Homo sapiens: one gene and its partner. The protein of the gene in region 2 interacts with the protein of the main gene of each other region in a biochemical or structural test. Each region holds a gene or a part of one and is shown on either strand. Other genes may lie near its edges. The genes, in order: GPR85 and CXCL14.

The links.
Region 1: the proteins of CXCL14 (region 2) and GPR85 form a complex in vitro, tested with the Homo sapiens proteins (one study listed by BioGRID).

The regions. Positions count from the first base shown.
Region 1 is NC_000007.14:113,081,995-113,093,109, forward strand, and holds GPR85 (probable G-protein coupled receptor 85), read right to left. Parts: upstream 4,834-11,115; 5' UTR 4,328-4,833; intron 4,174-4,327; exon of another isoform or gene 4,116-4,173; 5' UTR 3,998-4,115; intron 2,898-3,997; 5' UTR 2,728-2,897; coding exon 1,615-2,727; 3' UTR 291-1,614; downstream 1-290. UniProt on the Homo sapiens protein: Orphan receptor.
Region 2 is NC_000005.10:135,575,830-135,585,873, reverse strand, and holds the start of CXCL14 (C-X-C motif chemokine 14 precursor), read left to right. Parts: upstream 1-6,882; 5' UTR 6,883-7,095; coding exon 7,096-7,159; intron 7,160-7,334; coding exon 7,335-7,440; intron 7,441-10,044. UniProt on the Homo sapiens protein: Potent chemoattractant for neutrophils, and weaker for dendritic cells. Not chemotactic for T-cells, B-cells, monocytes, natural killer cells or granulocytes. Does not inhibit proliferation of myeloid progenitors in colony formation assays.

The DNA of each region.
Region 1 (11,115 bases), on a different chromosome or scaffold from region 2:
CAGGTACACATCTCTAAATACTACTGGCATTTAAGAATAATAGAGGGATGATTATAATAAACTACCAAATAATGCTTTTACAGATAATATTATGTCAGTTTATCAGCATTATGTTGATTATCATTCATACATTTCCAGTCTGGAATGTAGTAGCTACAAGAATCAAAAAGCAAAACCATAATAAAGCTAGTCTTCCTAGTTTGTGCTTGCCTCCCAAATTAAAAAAAAAGTTGTTATGTGCCAAAAATGTAAAACTTATTTCAAGAAAATTAACAGGCTACACGGGTAAATTTTGGCAAATGCAACTTTATATTGAAGTTCACACATCTGTATCTTAAAGAATGAGACTCACAGACTCTAATGTATTTCTAAAATACCAGAAATCATAATATAAGCTTTCACAAGTTAAAACTGAAATAATTTAAATTACCAATACACTGAATGTGCAGAAAGTATAAACAAGACTGTGCCTTCAGTAGAATAAATGCTTCACAAATTGTGCAGGATGTCATACTAAGGCTGTGGTCTCCCCTTGACAGCTGACTTAAAATATAAACATACATCAACTGCCTGCTTCTTAGAACAGTTTAGAAAGGGTAGCACACCGTAGAAGAAAATCTCATTATTTCAGTGATGTGCACTTTAAGTTTCAAACCATGTGAGAAAAAAGGAAAAAGTAATAAATGATCTTCCATGCACTTTTAGATGCATGACCATGACCAGTTACTGATTTGATTTCCCTTGGCTATTTGCTCCAGTGCTAAATAAGATGAAGGATACTAGATAACCCTTTAAGGCAACATGTATTTATTCTGCATTATTAGAACTGCTCAGTTGTGACAGGCTGGTACCATTAATGTTGCCTCCCAGACCAATATCTAGCATTTGTAAAATATAAATGAATTGGAAAAACTTTATACCAAATCAACAAAAACCACATAATACAGTTCAATGCTAGCAATCTTACTAGTAGATGAGGAAAGTGGTATTTAGAAATAGCAATGTATTAATACAAAAAAAGTAAACTCTAATTGGAACCAATATACTGCTTTGGAATGCTCCCCAGAACTTACAAGGCGGTTTTTAAAGTGTGATATTCCAATAATTCATTGGCACGTCTTTAGTGGATTACAGTACTTTAAGTCCCCAAATATTTTAGTCTTTGCAAAACAATAGTAGTATGAAATGTTTTAAAGTCTTCAAACTTCTAAAATTAGTTTTTATCAACACATTTACCTCATGTCAACTTAATTTATTAAGATGTCCAATGCTAATTGTTTTTTGATGTTTTTTCATATGTAGTGACATACAGAGCATTTAGCACTGATACTTAGCACCTGCTACTTTCATTATCTAGTTTTTGACCACATAAAGAAACTTAGGGCAGTGGTTCAGTCCCTTCTTAATTACAAACCTTTGCTGGCAGTCAGCAGGATCACTCTGAGATTTAAAATAGGATTATAGGTGAACTATTGCAAAGACTGCAGAATGTTGCCCAAATCCTTAAAACTGCTGATTCCATTCTTGAATTTCTTCTCAAAATATGGCTATGGGCCACAATTGCTCAGCAGAGAAGGTTAGTTTTCACAAGGCTAAAGATTTACAGATGCTCCCTCATATAACACAGTAAGGTTCCCTTGGTAACCTGGATTTTCTGCAGTAAAGAAGGGTTGTGCTGAAACAGCGCCTCAGCTCCCTGTTTGAGAAAATGCAGACAAAAGGATTGATTCCTGCTTGGGCAAAACTCATCCAGACAGCAGCTGTTAGAAATCCCCCTGGTACTACAGGCCCTCTTGCAAAAACTCTCCAATAACAGGCCACCAGGTAGGGGCCCCACAAGGTTAGAAACAGAAAAGTCATTATATAGAACATTCTGCTGATTCTTTTCTCCATTTTGAACTCGTCTAAGACCAATAGCCTTCTTCTGCCTGTGGTGTTTGCATTTTGCCTGATGCCCAGCAAGGTGGGTGGTGTGGGACCCCTTCCAAATCCTGCTAGCCAATTGGCAGCTGCCTGGCCACTGGCTCCAGGACCATGAAAAGTCCAGTTCTGGCTGACTGCTGCTACAAACTGGACTGGCTTCATTTTTCTTCGATCGTGGACGAAAAATATCAGCTTGAGGTAGACAAGCTGTGTGGCTAGGAGGATGAGAGCAAGAAGCAGCATAAATCCTAAGGAATCATTAGCCCTGAAGGAGCGGTGTTGGAAGGTGCATTGATCTTCCTCCCTAATGAATGAGTAAGTGCCCACGTCTAAAACCGGGGGAAATGCCATGGCCACAGACAGAGTCCACACCATACAGATCACAGCCAGACACGTCCAAAAGGTCAGCCTCTTTGTATAGAAGCGGTGATGGGCGATAGCTAAATATCTGGTGACACTGATGCAGAAGAGCATGAAAGCAGTGTGGAAACAGGACAAAACCCCCAGAAAGGCAATCACTTTGCAAGTCAGAGTCCCATAAGTCCAGGTAGAACCATTTTTGACAGAGTTGAACACAAATGGGAAACAAATTGCAGATCTGAGGATATCTGAACAGCAAAGATCCAACAGGAAGTAGTAAGGTGCTCTATGCAAGGTCTTATCTTTCACTAGCAAAATGGAGATCAGGAGGTTGCCCACCACGCTGACTCCTATTATGAAACCCAAGGAAGTCAGTTTCAGAAAGGCTGTTAGAGGCGAGAGATTTTGCAAAATGTTGTCAGCTGCATGGCTATAGTTCGCCATAGATGGATGGAGGATAAGGATACAGCCTCAGTCAAGTCTCATGATCTAGATATAAGAACAAGGAAAAGATAGATCCATACATTTTACTGAAAATATAATCCACAAAGAGAACTGATCTGATCTGCAGTCATGCTTCCTCTTTTCTTCCACTTGTTTTGCCATCAGAATATCTGAAAAAAAAAAAAAAAAAAACCTATCAGTTCTTAAGTTAACAAGCAATGATGTCAGACAGTGCTAACAAAGCTGTTCACTTATGGGGAAGCAAATAAAGTTTTAATTTTGAATACTAATATTTGCTTTACTAAATATTTTTGCTCGAGATTTCAGAGAATTGGCTTGTTTAGTTTTTCAAGCTAAGTGAATTTTAAAATGTCCCTATTTTGGACAATATACATTTGATAGGGTAACTTTAGGAGAGAAGGAATAAAATGTCCCATTCTTGTAAAATATGCCAGTCCAGGAATTAACCACTAGAATTGCAATGGAATCTACAAGATTGCTATTAGGAGGCAGAGACACTACCTACATTTATTTGAGATCTATTAGTATCTGTCAGTGTTTCACAGGCAGCTTCTCTGTTTGATGTGGGTCCAAAGAACCCGTGCAAAATATATCTTAAGTGCCACTATTCATGCTGCATAAGAGTATTTGTTGATTCATCTTAAAGCAAAATTTCAAAATTAACTTCAAAATTAATAGGAACTTACTTGTCCCAAGATTTGATGTGATTTAATCATTTGTCTTTCCCTCTCCACCCTACCCCCCATTTCTGGCAAATCTTTTAAGCCCACATGATTATTAAAATGGTTAATGTAAATATTGGACAGGGAAACACACCCAGAGGAATAATGCACTTCCATTTGTAAACCTTGGCTGCCTGGATTCAAATGAATATAACATGAACCTGTATTTCTTGGGCAATTAAGCCTTTCCCATTTACACTGATAACCTTTGTTGCAAATCACAAGTGGCTGCTTTTTAAAACAAAATGCACATTGTCTCGCAGGTGCCTGGACCACACCAGGGAAATCGGCTTCCTCTGTTATTCCCACCAAGCGTGTTTCTTTTGCCACTTCTCACTGGCCCGGAATATGCTGGTGGAAGCCCAGGCAAAACTGCGTTCGATGATTTTAATTTCCCCACCGGTACATCCTCGGGTAAATACCGATCGCATCATGCAACATTACGAAACCTGAAATCCGCCACCCCTGGATTTATAATGGGGGGAGGGTGGAGGAGGGGGAGAGGGAGAGAGACATGCATTACATACGCGAAGATGGGGAGAGAGATTGCTTCTGTGCTGCAAAGGAACCGTTCCCGGTGATTCGCAGTCTGATATTCCTCAGTCTTGTAAGGCTTTCCAGAAATGGAGCTCTCAGTAAGCCCTACTGAAGATGCATTGTCTGAATGTACTTCCATTATGCAGTTTATTGTCACAAAACACATACACACACACACACACACACACACACAGAGACACACACACACACACACACACACACAACCTGAGGGAGGGCTCTTTCTCGGTGAACCTGCAGTTTCATCAACACTGTGCATTCCCCCACATCCCCCAAACTTAACCAAGAGTATATCCTCCTACCTGTTGGTGTTGGATATCCCGACAGACTATAGCTTCTTTCTATAAATTGCTGATTTTTTTCTTTTTTTCTTTTTCTTTTTTTTTTTTTTTTTTTTGTTTTTTGTTTTTTTTTTTTTTTTTTTTGCCTTAGTGCCTTGACTGAGCATCCAGGCAGGGCTCGGCGGCGCCTGCGCGCTGGAGCCTCCTTGAGCTCCAGCCGCGTCCTCCCCTGTCGCAGCGGCACCGTCTCCCCCAGTAACGCAGGGGCCGCGGCGGCGGCGGCTGCGGTGGCGAGGGCGGCGGCGGGGCTGCTTCAGCCTCTGTGGAACCAGCAGGAACCCCTACCTGACTCCAGAGCTGGCTGGGTTTATTGACTGCCCTGTCCAATCCAACTGGCAGCATTAAGCTTTTGTCCCTTCGTGGCTGCTTCTGAACTTTTCCCTCCCCGCATTTGTAGTGGGGGGCTGGAAAGGCCCTTTCAGGACCTCAGGCCCATCCTCTTCCCAAAGGCAGCGCACGAGGAAGTCACAGTGCCCGTGACGCCCGCCCCCTCCCTCAGCTTCCCGGAACCCTAACCTTCCCCAGACACTTTCTTCCCTTTTCTTTTAGGGTGGTCCAAACCACCGGAGGCTTCTTTTATATATTTATTTTTAAGTGATGTCTCCAGCTAACCTTTAAATTTGCAGGTTAGCTGGAAAAAGACAAGAAAAGAATGGGAAAAAAGAAAAAAAGTTATTTATTTATTTATTTATCTTTTTCCCACAGTTAAAAATCTTTTCAATGGGGAAGAAGGGAAGGCACGTTAGGGCAGCTCTCTCTTTGTTAGTCATCTTCTATTCTCCAATGCACGCAAATATGCGTAAAAGTAGGGAGAAAGCTAAGTTCAGAGGACAACTACAATATGATTTACATTCAGTCTACCTTAAAGGATGTCACTAAAGAATCAGGCTTATAAAATGTTTAAATGGCTATTCCTGGCATTCCACCCCACCAAGCAACAGTATTCCTTTTCCCTTCTTACAAGTTCCGCTGACCAATGATGGGTGATGTCAAAGCAGTTATGTGTACGAGTTTCCTTTTTTCCCCTTTGTTATTACAGATGAAAAATACTAGAAATATAACAAATACGTAAAACTTACACCAGTCCAAACGGTCGGATGATACCACAGACACCACAAAGCCTGACACGTGGGTGCTTAGGAATGCCTCTAGAATCATGCATTTTCTTATTTTACCATTTCCGAAGAGTTTTGTTTGTGGAGGTGATATAAAATTTTAAGCAACAACTTCCCAGTTCTCCTACCCAAAACTAGCAGACACGCTTTCATTAATTCCCAATGTAAAACGTCTGCTTCTTTTTCTGCATGCTTTTTGCTTTATAATAATCTGTTAATGAAACAAAAAATAAAAATCTTCTCTACAGTAATAATCTGATCTTGAGACAGCAGTAAAATACCTCATTGCTGGGTGGTGAGATTGTGACATTCAGGGGAACTCAGGCCAATCAGCATACAGATAATATGGGTTAATTTACATACTGTATTTCTATTGGATGAGCCGAGGTAAAGCCTTATCTTGATGTCACAGTCGTTACACAAAGCCCTATGTTGGTAATACTGAAATGATGTTAAATTTCCCTGATTTGTTCTTGAATTTCCTACGTCCATTTAAATACATGGATAATAGTTTGTTTTTTTCGAAAAGAATATACACAAGGCACTAAACTTTGGCATTCCCTTAACCTAGAAAAATCAATCCTACAGCCATGCTGGAAGTAACTTGAGGGCATTTCCATTCAAATAAAACATTCCACTTTTTGCAAAGCAAATGAATTCAAAACTCAAAACCATGTGGTGGTTTGCAACTTCTAAGTAAAATGTCAAATTCGTTTTTATGAAACTACAAATCACTTCAACTTGTGCTTTTTTGCTTCCCAATAAATGCTTCAATGTACTTTGCAAAGAGTTATTTCCTGAATTTTTACAGTTTTAAAAAATGTATGGAATAAGAGGCTTAAGTTTGCTGAAGATTCATGATTGGTCAGATGTTAGGTTGTACAGATTAGGGAAAAGCTATTTTAAAGTAAATTAAAAGAGTCACTGCACTGCCAGGCCATGAAGCAGTAATATACTCTGCCAAAAGTTATAGGGCCAAGATCCAAGGGTTTTAACTAGTCTTATTCTTTAAGCAGATATTGATTCCTTAAAAATAAGGGAGAGGGTATATGTGTATGCAATATTCTTTCATATCCACATCTCAGGGTATAGTAAAGCTATTTTTTTCCTTTGCAGTTGAGCACAGTTACATCCACTAATTCTTCAGCTTTTCCAGCTGTTGGATAAGAATGTCATTTTCTTGCCTCACAAGGGGACTCAAGAAATTAATGAGATATTTTCTATCTAGCTCATTAACTCTACTGGAGAAAACATTGGAAGCTACATCTTTCATCAGCAGGGCTTTAAAAAATATGTTTAATAGCTGACAAAAGTTTCATATCATCTACAAGTTCTCAAATGTAAAGTTATTGCTTCAAATTGTTTAGATCATAGGCTTAGTTGGTCTTAACTAATTTCTTTTTTTTTTATCCCCTACATCACCAAACCCAGAAAATTTGATTTTCAGGTTAAGAGTAAAAGAACAAAGCAAATACAACAAAACTATATGCTCTAATCCTTGGGTTTGAAGGGTTCTGAAGATTTACAAACTGTTGGAATATTACATGTACTATATTGATCAGTGTATTAGGAAAACTGATATAATTTGCTTAATTTGGTTCTTATAAAAAGTACATACCATTTTATTTTAAAAACCAATGACCTTGCTTTCAAAATTAATCTATTTCAGATTTTTGCCAACTGATGCATAGTATCATGATCAGCAAAAACAGTGTTTTTTTCTGTGCATTGTTTACATGAAAGTGTGTGTCAGGAAATAACACTTGGTAATTGCAGAGAATAATAGACTAGAATAAACATTCTAAATAAAAGATTTTTAGTAATTCATTTCAAATGACATGTCTTCTGCTTAAAGCATAAAACGTGTGTCTTTGGTGCTCTCAACTGTTACCAAAATTTAAAGTTGTATATGAAAAAGAGCCTTTTTAAAGTTTTCTTTAAAACTTTAACTATCTTTTTGATGGGGTTGTTTGTTTTTTTCTTGTAAATTTGTTTGAGCTCATTGTAGATTCTGGATATTAGCCCTTTGTCAGATGAGTAGGTTGCGAAAATTTTCTCCCATTTTGTAGGTTGCCTGTTCACTCTGATGGTAGTGTCTTTTGCTGTGCAGAAGCTCTTTAGTTTAACTAGATCCCATTTGTCAATTTTGGCTTTTGTTGCCATTGCTTTTGGTGTTTTAGACATGAAGTCCTTGCCCATGCCTATGTCCTGAATGGTATTGCCTAGGTTTTCTTCTAGGGTTTTTATGGTTTTCGGTCTAACGTTTAAGTCTTTAATCCATCTTGAATTAATTTTTGTATAAGGTGTAAGGAAGGGATCCAGTTTCAGCTTTCTACATATGGCTGGTCAGTTTTCCCAGCACCATTTATTAAATAGAGAATCCTTTTCCCATTGCTTGTTTTTCTTAGGTTTGTCAAAGATCAGATAGTTGTAGATATGCGGCGTTATTTCTGAGGCGTCTGTTCTGTTCCATTGATCTATATCTCTGTTTTGGTACCAGTACCATGCTGTTTTGGTTACTGTAGCCTTGTAGTATAGTTTGAAGTCAGGTAGCTTGATGCCTCCAACTTTGTTCTTTCGGCTTAGGATTGACTTGGCGATGCGGGCTCTTTTTTGGTTCCATATGAACTTTAAAGTAGTTTTTTCCAATTCTGTGAAGAAAGTCATTGGTAGCTTGATGGGGATGGCATTGAATCTATAAATTACCTTGGGCAGTATGGTCATTTTCATGATATTGATTCTTCCTACCCATGAGCATGGAATGCTCTTCCATTTCTTTGTATCCTCTTTTATTTCATTGAACAGTGGTTTGTACTTCTCCTTGAAGAGGTCCTTCACATCCCTTGTAAGTTGGATTCCTAGGTATTTTATTCTCTTTGAAGCAATTGTGAATGGGAGTTCACTCATGATTTGGCTCTCTGTTTGTCTGTTATTTATGTATAAGAATGCTTGTGATTTTTGTACATTGATTTTGTATCCTGAGACTTTGCTGAAGTTGCTTATCAGCTTAAGGAGATTTTGGGCTGTGACAGTGGGGTTTTTTAGATATACAATCATGTCATCTGCAGACAGGGACAATTTGACTTCCTCTTTTCCTAATTGAATACCCTTTATTTCCTTCTCCTGCCTAATTGCCCTGGCCAGAACTTCCAACACTATGTTGAATAGGAGTGGTGAGAGAGGGCATCCCTGTCTTGTGCCAGTTTTCAAAGGGAATGCTTCCAGTTTTTGCATGAACAGACGCTTCTCAAAAGAAGACATTTATGTAGCCAAAAAACACATGAAAAAATGCTCACCATCATTGGCCATCAGAGAAATGCAAATCAAAACCACAATGAGATACCATCTCACACCAGTTCGAATGGCAATCATTAAAAAGTCAGGAAACAACAGGTGCTGGAGAGGATGTGGAGAAACAGGAACACTTTTACACTGTTGGTGGGACTGTAAACTAGTTCAACCATTGTGCAAGTCAGTGTGGTGATTCCTCAGGGATCTAGAACTAGAAATACCATTTGACCCAGCCATCCCATTACTGGGTATATACCCAAAGGACTATAAATCATGCTGCTATAAAGACACATGCACATGTATGTTTATTGCGGCACTATTCACAATAGCAAAGACTTGGAACCAACCCAAATGTCCAACAATGATAGACTGGATTTAGAAAATGTGGCACATATACACCATGGAATACTATGCAGCCATAAAAAATGATGAGTTCATGTCCTTTGTAGGGACATGAATGAAATTGGAAATCATCATTCTCAGTAAACTATCACAAGAACAAAAAACCAAACACCACATATTCTCACTCACAGGTGGGAATTGAACAATGAGAACACATGGACACAGGAAGGGGAACATCACACTCTGGGGACTGTTGTGGGGTGGGGGGAGGGGGGAGGGATAGCTTTAGGAGATATACCTAATGCTAAATGATGAGTTAATGGGTGCAGCACACCAGCATGGCACATGTATGCATATGTAACTAACCTGCACATTGTGCACATGTACCCTAAAACGTAAAGTATAATTAAAAAAAAAAAAAAGACTGGGAAAAAAAAAACTTTAGCTATCTTGGTAAGAAAGGCTCTCATTGGGGGTTTTTGCACAGAAACACTTTCTGATTGATTATTTAAAAAAAAATCACCAACCTGGAATAAGTGACCAATAGAAAGAGAGATTATACATCTCCCTTTTTTGATAATGGTTTTCATGTCTTAGTTGATAATGGTTTTCACATCTTAATTGCTGCAGAAAGTGACCTTTTTCACAGTGACATCTAAGTAACTGAAAGTTTTTAGGGCATTATATTCATCTCTTTGAGGAGCAGAATGGTGAAATAATATGCTAGACAAATCATGACTTGGGAGTTGGGAATAACTATAATTGTGAACATCCCAAACAGTGAAATTTTTTCAGAATGTTAATGAGTTTTTAAAAGATTAAAAATCTGGCATGTTTCTTTCCAAAATGCTAGAAGGTTCATTTGTTAGACTTTTCTCTCTGCTCTGCCCCATAACAGGTTCCAAAGTGTTAATGTAATTCATTTTTAATTTTAAAGTTAACTGCCAGGCTTTTGAAAACTCAGCAGTTTGCCTTTTCTTCTTCCCTTTATGTTGACAATTTCCTCCTCTCAGAAAACTTTAAGACTTGTTCCTTTGTTCAATTTATTTAACAAATATTTCTTGAGCTCCTCCTACTCTGTATGAGGCACTGTGCTAGACCTTGCAAGAAATAAGAAATCGGGAGGTAGGACCAGTTTACAGGTGGACACGTCACAGTAGGGAAAGCCTGAACTGATGGAAGTGGAGCAGGAAAAATGAAGAGAAGCAAAGTAAGAGGAGCCATATTTCTTATGGAGTAATTGGCTCAGGGAAGCAAAGGAGATCAAGGGGTAAGAACAGACTCTCAGGTTTGGAACTTGGAGAAGAACTGGGAGGCAGAAGACACCATTAACCAGAGGAAACAAAAGTTAAAAAGGAAGGAGCTGGTTTGGTAAGGAAAAGAGTGAGTTAATTTTAGACATGCTGAATGTGAAATGCTGGTGGAATATTCAAATGTTGATGTGTTATACTTAGTTGGAAGTGAAGAGCCCAAATTCAGAAAGTACTTATAGAGAAACTATTGGGCGGCATTGCCAAGGGAGAGATTGCTGAGAGAGAAGAAGGTTGAGGTTAAATAGATAAACAAGTATGCCCATTCCCCTCCATCTGAACAAACCAAAAAACAAAGAGAATGCCTACATATAAGAAACAGGAAGATCATGGAAGAACCAGACATAAAACAAACCAAAAGAGGAGGATCATCTATGTTATAGACCCTGAGGGAGGAGAGAATTTCAAAGAAGGAGTGGTCATCAGTGTCAGTTGTGACTCGGAGATTTAGAAGAAAAACACATAAGAAGATATCCTTGGATCTGGGGATGATGAAAATCATTAGCAATCTTTGAGAAAGCAGTTTCAGAAGAGAAAGTCAGACTATAAGGGATTAACAAGTGAGGGACACAGGCTTAAAGGCTTATGAGGTCAGGCTAAGAAACTATTTTGTCATTAATGACAGCACTGTCTCAGTGATAAAGGTTTGAGTGAATTCTCTTGATGTTTTATGAACAAAGTGATGGTTATT
Region 2 (10,044 bases):
TTATGGAACACTTACTATGTGACAAGATACTGTGCAACATGTTTGTTCTATATCAGCTCATTTAATCCTTATCACAGCCTGATTATTTATTATTATTATTATTATTATCTTCTTTTTACAGATGAGGAAGCAGAAGCACAGAGTGATAGACTAGTACTCTAGACCAGGAAGTCTGACTCTGTAACACACTAGACTGTGATAAACTGTGATCCACATTAATTCATTCATCCTGCATTCGTTCATCCTGCATTCAATCATTTCTTCATTGAGCACCTACTGTGTGCCCGGCCCTGTGCTCAAGCTGGGGAACTAGAATTAATAAGAAAGACACAGAGCAACCTCAGAGGATCATGGACCTGAAAGAAGACCTCATAGGAGCCTTTACAAGTGTGAGGAGTGGCACTGGAGACAACAAGGTCTACGAGCCACGCGGACAGCAGGTGCCTCTCCTACCCTGGGGCTAGGACGGGAGTCAGGCAGATGTGTGCAGTCAAGGAGGGCTTCCCTGTAAAATGACATCTTCGCAGTTTCAGGAAGGCAAACGAAAGCAAACAGCCTAGCCAAGGAGACAGGACTTGGCGGTGCCTGCACAGAGGCCTAGGACTCTGCTGCAAACATGGAACAGGGCTGGTGAGAGAGGCAGGAGGTGGGGCAGAGCAGAATGAGGACAAGTGAGGCCGGATGGAGGGGCTGCTTGTTCCCCTGTGCCAAGCAGTGGGGGACAGCTCTAAAGATGGGCCTAGACCCTCACCATGGGACTCACCCAAGCCACCAACAACTCTACCTGCCTCTCTGCAGTGCCACCTGCACAGCACAGGTGCTCATCGCCCATCGCCAGCGTCTGCTCAGTGAGGCTGAAGGCTGCCCAAGCCCTCGCTGAATCAACTGCTCCTGAGTTGCTGTTATAACAAGAACATTCTGAAAAACTGGAAAGCAAGGAGAGAAGCTTTACAACAACAATGCCCAACATTTCGCCACTCAAAGAGAATGACGTTTGTAACTCTGTCTTGCCATCCTTTGTACAGAGGTTACTGTTTTGCATACTTATAATCACAGTGTTTACACAACCTTGTGTTTTTTCTACTTACTGCATAAGCATTTACTCCACAAATTTAGAGCTTTCATTGTTTTCTTAATCCCCCATTGTTGGGCATTTAGTTTAAATCTTTATTTTTAACAAGGACTAGCTTTGCATGTGGTATTTCTCCATTATGAGAATTTTAAACAGATTTCTGAAGTGGTTAATAAGATGAAATGGTTTACTTCAAACAGTCTGGATACCATACTATAAATATAACTTCCCCAAATTTTGTACCAATTGATAGTCCCATGAGTGATGCTTAAGTGATGCTTCCTCACTTTACCATTATCAGCTTTGGATGTTGCTATTTAAAATAAACATTTCCTCATTGAGTGGGACCAAAACCAAAATGCCGTGATCCTGCAGCACTGCTGTGCTTTTCCTTCATTGCCAAAGAGGATGCATGTTCTTTGATGAATTGGTTAATTGCCTTTCTTTTTCTCCTGAATTGTCCTTTGATGTCCTTTGCTCATTTATATGTTAGGGCCCTCTTCGGAAATATCTTTGCATGTGTTCTTAATATAATAAAGATGCTTGCCTGTAAGGGAGTGTTGTTGGATGAATAGATGGTGGAATAAATGCTACTTGTTGGTTTGTCATATTTGCTGCAAGCATTTTCTCCCATGTTTAGGGGAATCTTGCAGTGCCCCCTGTGACCCATCTGAGTAACAGAGCCCCCCTACATACACTCTGCCTCGGGGCTGCTTTAAGCCTAATTCAATACTGCCTGGCTGTCCCCCACATCATTTTCTCTGGGCTTAAGTTACTCAGGATCTCTAAATATTTGCAGTGTGAAGAACAAAACCAGAGGTTGTTCTTGGGAACCTTGGTCCTTCAACTTCCTTCACCCCAGAGCATGGCCAGGGAAGGGGTCAGCATGCAGGGCTGTAGCTGAAAGAAAGCTGCACAGAGGAGGCAGCTGGCTGCCCAGACTCCACAGGCTGCAGGTGAACAGACAGAGGGAGGAGCTGGAGAGGGAGAGGCACCCGCCAGGCTTGGATTCAGAGCCAGCAGCCACACAACACAATGGAAGCAGGTATTTTGGGGTGACCCACCATGTCATGAGTGGTGATGGGGCCAGACAGGTTACTGGAGCCCAGGATCTTGCTCTGGCCTAAGTAGCTAGGTACAGGACACAGAGACAGGAGGCTGGCTAACATTAATGCACAGGGAGATCTTGTATGCAGTCAACCCCATTGCTGGGCCTCAGTTTCCTCATATGTACAATGAAGGCCAGTTGTGGCCTCAGCCTCTACCAGTGCTGAATTCTAGGATTCCTGTCCTGCCAGGGAAGTAAAAAGGACTCCTCTTCTGAAAAGAAGGTCAGTCACGAAAAGAACTAAAAGAATGGGGGAAGGAATTGCCCTGGATCCCAGCTCCCAGGGCAGAAAACCAGCCTTGACCAGTCAAGACCCCTTTCTAAGCAGACCAAGGAGGTAGTGCCCAGACACCTGTGGGATTTCCTGGAAAGTCACACTCCTGTTATCACCACCTCCTCTTCCCAGAGACTTCATCTCTAAAACAAATGCCCTGAGGATGAACTGGCTTCCCTGGGAATATGGACTCCCCATGGCCACCCCTACACACACGCAAACACACACACACACACACGCACACACACTTTCTCACATGCAACCTTGTAGCCTGTGCAGCCTGGATTCAGCAGTACTCTCACATGCTGAGCTGTTGCCTGAAACATGTTTTTATTTACTCCACAGATAGGGAGTGAACCCCTGCTACATGCCAATCACTGTTGTAGATACTGAGGATGAGCAAGACAGACACCCACAGACACAGACAGATCATCCACAATGCACCCCCAAATAAATATGAAAATGTACAATTTGAGGTTGCTGCACATACAATGAATAAACTAAAATCGGTGGCAACACAGAGAGGGACTGTTGTTGGGGGTATGCTCGTGGGATTAGAACTGGATGGTGAATATTGGAGCCCAGGCTCACTGAGGAGAAGAGGGTTGCCTGTCAGCCCCTGGGGAGGAGCACTGCAGGTGGAGGGGCCAGTGAGCACAAAGACCCTGAGGTGGGAACAGGCTTGGATGTTTGAAGGTAAGACAAGGCAGAGTATCTGGAGCACAGCCTGTGGGGAGCATGGCAGGTGCTGGTCATGATTGGGTGCGCACTGCTGGGGACTTGGCTTCCACTCTGCATGAGATCGGGAGCCAGTAAAGGGTTCAGAGCAGGGACTTCCCCCAGGAGATCACTGTGTGAGCAGCAGGGACCATGAAGGGCCAGGAGTGGCCTCCCTCCTGTGGTCACTGGTTAATTCCTTTCCATCCTTCATATCTAACTCAATGGCCCTTTCCTCCAGGAATTTGTCCCCACCTCGTCACCCTGTCAGATCCCCTGATGAGTCTCCTAGCACCAACCACCCTCCAGGACACTGACCTCTGCAGGAGTTTCACACTGATCTCTGTGGTTTATAGCTAATGTCTGCCTTCCCCACTAGACTCTGAGCTGCTTGGGGACAGGCACACAGCTGCCTTGGCTCACCTCAAACCCCCAGCACCTCGTACAACGCCTGGGACACAGTGGGTGCTCAATAAATGTAAAGAGAAGAAATAAGCAAATCCCTGGGGTCTCAGCAAAATTTCCACTCCCTCAAGGAGTGATGTCCTGTTTCCACTTCCTCCCTCCTCTGTGCCCCCACACTTCACGTCTACCTCTTCTGTAGAATCCAGTATGACCATGAATGTGTTGACATCTGCACACATGCATACACACACACAGGCAAGGCATGTGTGCTGTCCTTCACTGTACCCCAGGGACCTCCTTGAAGCAGACAGTGCCACTGTACAAAGAACGGCCTCACACATGCCCACCTGCTCAGAGGCCCTCGGCTTGGGCTCACTAGACAGTCTGTGCCCTGAAGGTGTGTCAGGGGCCAAGCCCCCTCCCTCACCCAGTTAGGCAGCATCCCCCACAGACCTGCTGGCAGCAGGGGCCTCATGCTCTCCTGTACCATGGCTCCAGAAGAACTCACACAAACAAGGGCTCAGCTCTGCTTGCACAGTGGCTGCCTTCTGCAAACCAGAGATCTGCATACACAGACTGAGGAGTGTAACTGAGGACAAAACACTGGGACGTCTGACCTCTGGTCCAGCCCAAGAAGCTGGGGAACGTTGGTCCATATTTCTAGAGCCAACTACTTTTTCCTGTGAAAACTCAGTGCCCACGATCGCTGGTGTTGTTAGATCCCAGTTAATCAATCAACATATTCTTGAAACAAACATGTTAGAAATAAAATCGTTAATAAAAAATAATACTTTACATGCTCTAGGAAAGCTTGGTATTTAAGAAATTCCTTTGCAGCATAAAATATATTTTTTTGGAAAGCAATTGGCAATTTCTATGAAAAGTCTTAAAATGGGCATGTGCCATGGCCCCATGATTCTATTTCTGAGGGCTGATCCAATGTATTAAAACCTACCCCAAAATGGAGCTACAAGAATATTTGTCAAACAGCATTGGTTGTAAGAGGGTAAGGTTGAAAACAATCCAAATGTCCAGCAAGGAGTAGTCAAATTAATTCTGGTACATCTGTATGACGGAATACTCTGCAGCTAAAATCATGATAACCGCAATGGTCAGCACATATCAAACACTTACTCTGTGTTGGGGACCACATTAAAAGCATTACATGCACTATCTCATTTAATTCTGCCTATGCTGTACATATTATTATCATCTCCATCTCACAGATGAGGAAACCAATACCAAATAGAGTTAAGGTATTTGCCCAAAGTCACACAGCTAGTCCCTAGGATGCATACTCAGGCAATTTGACTCCAGACACCAGCCTCTTAGCCATTATACTACCCGGCCTCAGATGAAACCATTAAGGGAGCTATTGTTGTAGCAAGGCTAGCCACATGGAGCGATGTTCACAATATGCTAATAGGTATAGCAAGCAGGTTATTAAAGACTACATGCAGCCTGATCCCATGTGTACATGTGCACACAAAGCAAAAAGAGGATGCTTTGGGAAGATTTCACCCAAGATTTTACTTGCGTGAAAATGTTAGTTTTCTTCTGCTTGGGTTTTCTGATTTTTCTGGGCAAACGTGTTGTTTCTATATTTTAAAAAATTATTTTTAGAGTTAAAAACTAACATAAATGCCAAAAGTCACTCCCTCATACTCATCTCATGCATAAATGCAAATGTCCAGCTATTGGCTTTGCTTTAGGTATAGGCACAACAGCACGCATAGGCGCTGCTTGCTTTTCATGGCTCAGCTTCTTCTTGAAGCAGCAAGGGCTCTCCAGTTGGGAAGAGACGACACAGATTCTTCCCATTGCACCCTTCAGCAGACTGTCCCCATCATCCAGAAGCCCTCTGGGCATTTTTGCCTCCAGGGAACTGCCAGGCTGATGGCATAGAGCTGGGTGAGCTCTCTCCTGACAGCCAAGCCCAGGGACTCCAAGAGCTTGAGATGATCCACCTCCTGTCTCTGGGTCTCTCAAGGCAGCAAGAAGTGAAGGGCAGACAGGCCTCAAAGCAACAGAGTGGTCCAGGGACAGGAGTCCCAGTTCTGCAGCCGTATATACTGAGGACCCTCCTGGCCTAGTCACCTGCTTCCTAGCTCTGTGACCTTGGACAAGTTATTTCTTCTCTCAGAGCATGTTTCCACACCTGTCAAATAAAGAAATTAAAAGTACCAACTTGGAAGAAAAGTACCAATTGGTAAGAATCAAAGTAATAGATAAATTAGACATAAAACGATGGTGCCAATAAGTAACATTTCCTGGGTACTGACAACATGTATGATTTCTATAGTTCTCACAGCCACCCTATCAGAAACACTGTGATGATCTGCACTTTACAGATGATGAAACAAAAGCTGAGAGCGGTAAAGTCACTTGTGCTGGAAAGTAGTGAGGAGGGAATTTCTGCCACTATGGCTGGGCTCACACCACTATACCTCGCATTCTGGCACAATGTCTAGAACATGGGAAGGCCTTCATCCAGATGGTTACCACTGTCATCGCTCTCCACTAGGGCTCTCTACCTGGCTTTGGAGAGTAGTGTGAGAGTGAGGACTCCTCCTGGTTCTCCCCACCACCCAGACACTCACACAGCCACCAGGCCACTGACCCACTTTAAGGAGCTTTCCTTTGGGAGTCACCAAAACTCCTCCCCAATACCCGTCCCCACCCCCGCATACACACACATACCCTCTTTGAGTCAGTTCCAGTGATCACAGTCAATGACTTTGCTGCTGGACAGTCTATGACAAGCCCCTGTCCAGAACTGGCCTTGTGTTCTGGCCCAGCAGGGGCCCTTGGGGGTCAGGCCTGCAGGCACTCACACTTGGCACCTGCTCCAAAACCCTTTCAGGTCTTTGAGGATCTGAGCCCTGGGCCTGGGTCTCCCGCCGGCTCGGAAAAGCTGGCCTGCCGGGCCAGAGAGAGAACCACACGATTCAGAAAAGCAGTGCCCTTCAGCAGCCTCTCCACCGTCTGGGCTCCCCAAAGGCAGAGCGGGACGCTGGAAATGTGTGCGCGCTGTGGTATGGGTGTGCAAGTGTGCGAAGGCGGCGTGTTGTGTGAGCGAGAGGGTAGCGGATGTGTGTGTGCGTGTGCGCGCGTGGCTCCGGGTGTGCGCCGCTGCGATAGCGGGTCCTTTCCCGGGGCGGGCGACGGGCGGGCTGGGAAGGTCTCCTCCCCTCACCACATTGAGAAATCTCAGTGAGTCACCGAGTGGTTCTGCATATTAATGAGCTCGCTCGCTGCGAGGGCAGGAGCGGATTTAAAAGAGGCCAGGGCGGGCGGAGGGAGGCTGTGGAGAGAGCGCGGAGACAAGCGCAGAGCGCAGCGCACGGCCACAGACAGCCCTGGGCATCCACCGACGGCGCAGCCGGAGCCAGCAGAGCCGGAAGGCGCGCCCCGGGCAGAGAAAGCCGAGCAGAGCTGGGTGGCGTCTCCGGGCCGCCGCTCCGACGGGCCAGCGCCCTCCCCATGTCCCTGCTCCCACGCCGCGCCCCTCCGGTCAGCATGAGGCTCCTGGCGGCCGCGCTGCTCCTGCTGCTGCTGGCGCTGTACACCGCGCGTGTGGACGGTGAGTGCGGGGAGCTCCCCTTGTCGCCGTCTCGTCTTGTCCTGTCCTGGGGAACCCAAGCGCCAATTTCTAGGCATCCTGGGATCCCGCGGGGGGTGGTCTGGGTGGGCACCAAGGTGGTCGAGGGGCAGGAGACCGCCTAGCAACTAAGCCGTTGCCCCGCGCTCGCTCGCAGGGTCCAAATGCAAGTGCTCCCGGAAGGGACCCAAGATCCGCTACAGCGACGTGAAGAAGCTGGAAATGAAGCCAAAGTACCCGCACTGCGAGGAGAAGATGGTTATGTGAGTTCTCGCTCCTCACCTTGAGGGGGTGCGCACTGCTGTCAACCCAATGCCAGGGCACAGCCTGGGCCTGGGTCGGGCTAACAAACATTTCTCTCCGACTTTGTCAAGGCCCTGGAAAAGCCTTTGTAATTGCCCAGAGAGTCCTTAGGACGCTGGCGAGACACTCTGGAAGACAGTCGGGAAGGGGGGTCACTGTCCCGCTCCGGAACAGCGCCTCCAAGTTCACCCTTGCTAGGATTCAAATGAGCAGTCTCCCTATTTGTACCATGGGCCACCCACTCTGCTAGGGCCATCAAGGGTTAAAGGGTTCCCTTGTGCCAACTCAGAAAACCTAGACTGAAATCACTTAAAACACACTCACACCCAAACTGTGAGGCGTGCTGCCTTCCTGTCACTGGATAGAGGACTAATGCAAACACTATCTTAAATCCTGAGTCTCCTTCAGAGCCTTGTTCCAGTCAGAGACAAGTGGACCGCAAGTTTTTGGCTCCTAGAGATTTTATTTTGAGAACGCTCCACGAGCTTCCCTCACCGACTGTACTCCTTGTGGGTCCCCAATACGGAGCAGTACTGCAGAAAGTGCTCTGCTGGGGTTAATGTGCCACATGGCTGGAGCCCTGCTTGGTGGGGATGTGGGGAATGTTGGAAAAACTGGGGCAGAGTGAGAGAACACTTAGTTTCTTGCTCCTCCGCCTTCCCAATTAACCACTTGAGGCCAGCACCGCTGCCTCCTCATCAATATGCTCTTGGCCAGGAAGGGAGCCCTTGGCAAAGCGGCTACCAAATATTTGCCACAGACCATTGGCCCCTCTTCCCCTCCCCCAGAAACAGGACGCACTTTATTCTCAGTCTGGGCAAGTGCCCTCCACCAGCTGGCCCCCACCGGCGCAAAGGCCTTCACAGTGTCTGCGAAAGCAGTGCACACCCCTACCCAGCACCCCCCATCCCCGTCTAGGGGCTACACTGTCAGGCTGAAATTAGGGGAATTCAGAAATCCACTGGAACTGAGCTGACCCCACTGCCTTCCTTCACAGACACCTAAATTAACTTGCTTGTCCCTACCCCTTGCCTTGCAGACCAAATTCAAAGAAAATACCCAAAAATCCTTTTGGGTGGGGGCCAAGTGTCAAATGAGCTGGGAAAGGAGCTCCAAGCTCCTCAGGGCTTCCAGTTTGGGGGCTAAGAATGACAGGGGAATTCCAAGTTAAATCTCACTCGTCTAAGAGCTGAAAACCACTCTATTAACCAAACAAGTTTCTGAGACCTTGCAGGGGAAGAAAGCAGGGTAAAGGATGCAGTGATACCTAAAAAGGACAGAGCCCTCAGTAAATAGGCTTGCTCTTTTCCTGGCTAAACTTTTCCACATATAGAGAAAAACTATAGCTAGGCAAGTGTGAGAAAGGCTTTACGGAGCCTTGTAGAAACGTGCAGGGGCCTCAGGAGATCAGCACACAATCCAATCACCCTCTACTAAACCTCTAACCCACCCCCTAGGGCCTCCCACTCCATCCCTGAGGGCTGGGGGCTCCTCTCCCCCTCCACAATCCTAAAACTCTCCAAATCAGATGAGGGGCCAGCACTTTTGCAAAGCAGGTTTTCAGCCACAAAGGCTGAACAAAAGCAAATTTTCCAGCTTACCCTGAGTCACCCAGAAATCTCTGCTGAGGCTGGGGGTGGGGGCAGGAGTAGGGGCGGGGGGAGAGGTCCGCTTTGCAAGTGGGAGTCCTTGCACCCAGAAGGATCCAGGAGAGTCCGAATTCTAGAAAGAGCAATTTGTGTCATAGGTCCATGGAGCTCTCACCAAAACCCTTACCCCCACCGCCAGAACTGTGGAGGAGAGGGTCACAGGACTCAGAATTTCTGATAGTTGCTGGAGTCACAAATCCCTATGTCTGCACTCCACAACCGATTTTCATAATCCCAGTATTATGACGTGGCATTTGAGCACTGTAGTGAGAGGGCTGAGTGACCCTTCCTGCTCTCCCTTCCTGCTCTCCCTGACCTTCAGGATTTGGGATGCACAGCCTGCACACTGACCTAACTGAGAAAGGGTTTTTATCAGGCATTACCACGTCCTTTCCTTCAGAATGCTAAAGCAGCCTTGTAGGCAGAAAGAGAAAAGCATTTGCTAAATTCCTGCAGGGTGACTGGGCACAGTGGGGGAGAGAGACAACCAGAGTTCACTCTGAAGCCTGGCCTGTGCTCAAGGCTAGAGGAATGACCCGGAGTCACAGAGGAGTCCAGTCAAGGCAGGCACCATCACCTGGCATCAGCAGGAAGACCCGCCCCTGCCCCAAGGAGCTTAGGCCCTAGCAGGGACCCCAGAAACCCAGAGCACGGAGAAGGGAAGAGAACAGGTTGCCTAGGAACATTATGCCCCCATTCTGGTGGCAAGATCCGATTTTCTTTCCCCATCAACTGGGAGACTGAAGTAATGGGAATCCTGTCCCTTCTAGAACTTAGCCCATATAAGCCATGACATTTTCCATTTGGTTAACAGTGGGGAACTAGCTGACCTCTGTCCCTCTCTTCTCACTCTTTCCACTCTCACTTCCAGTCTCCCCCTTTGCCCTCCAAGCCCATTCCAGCACCCCAGTCTAC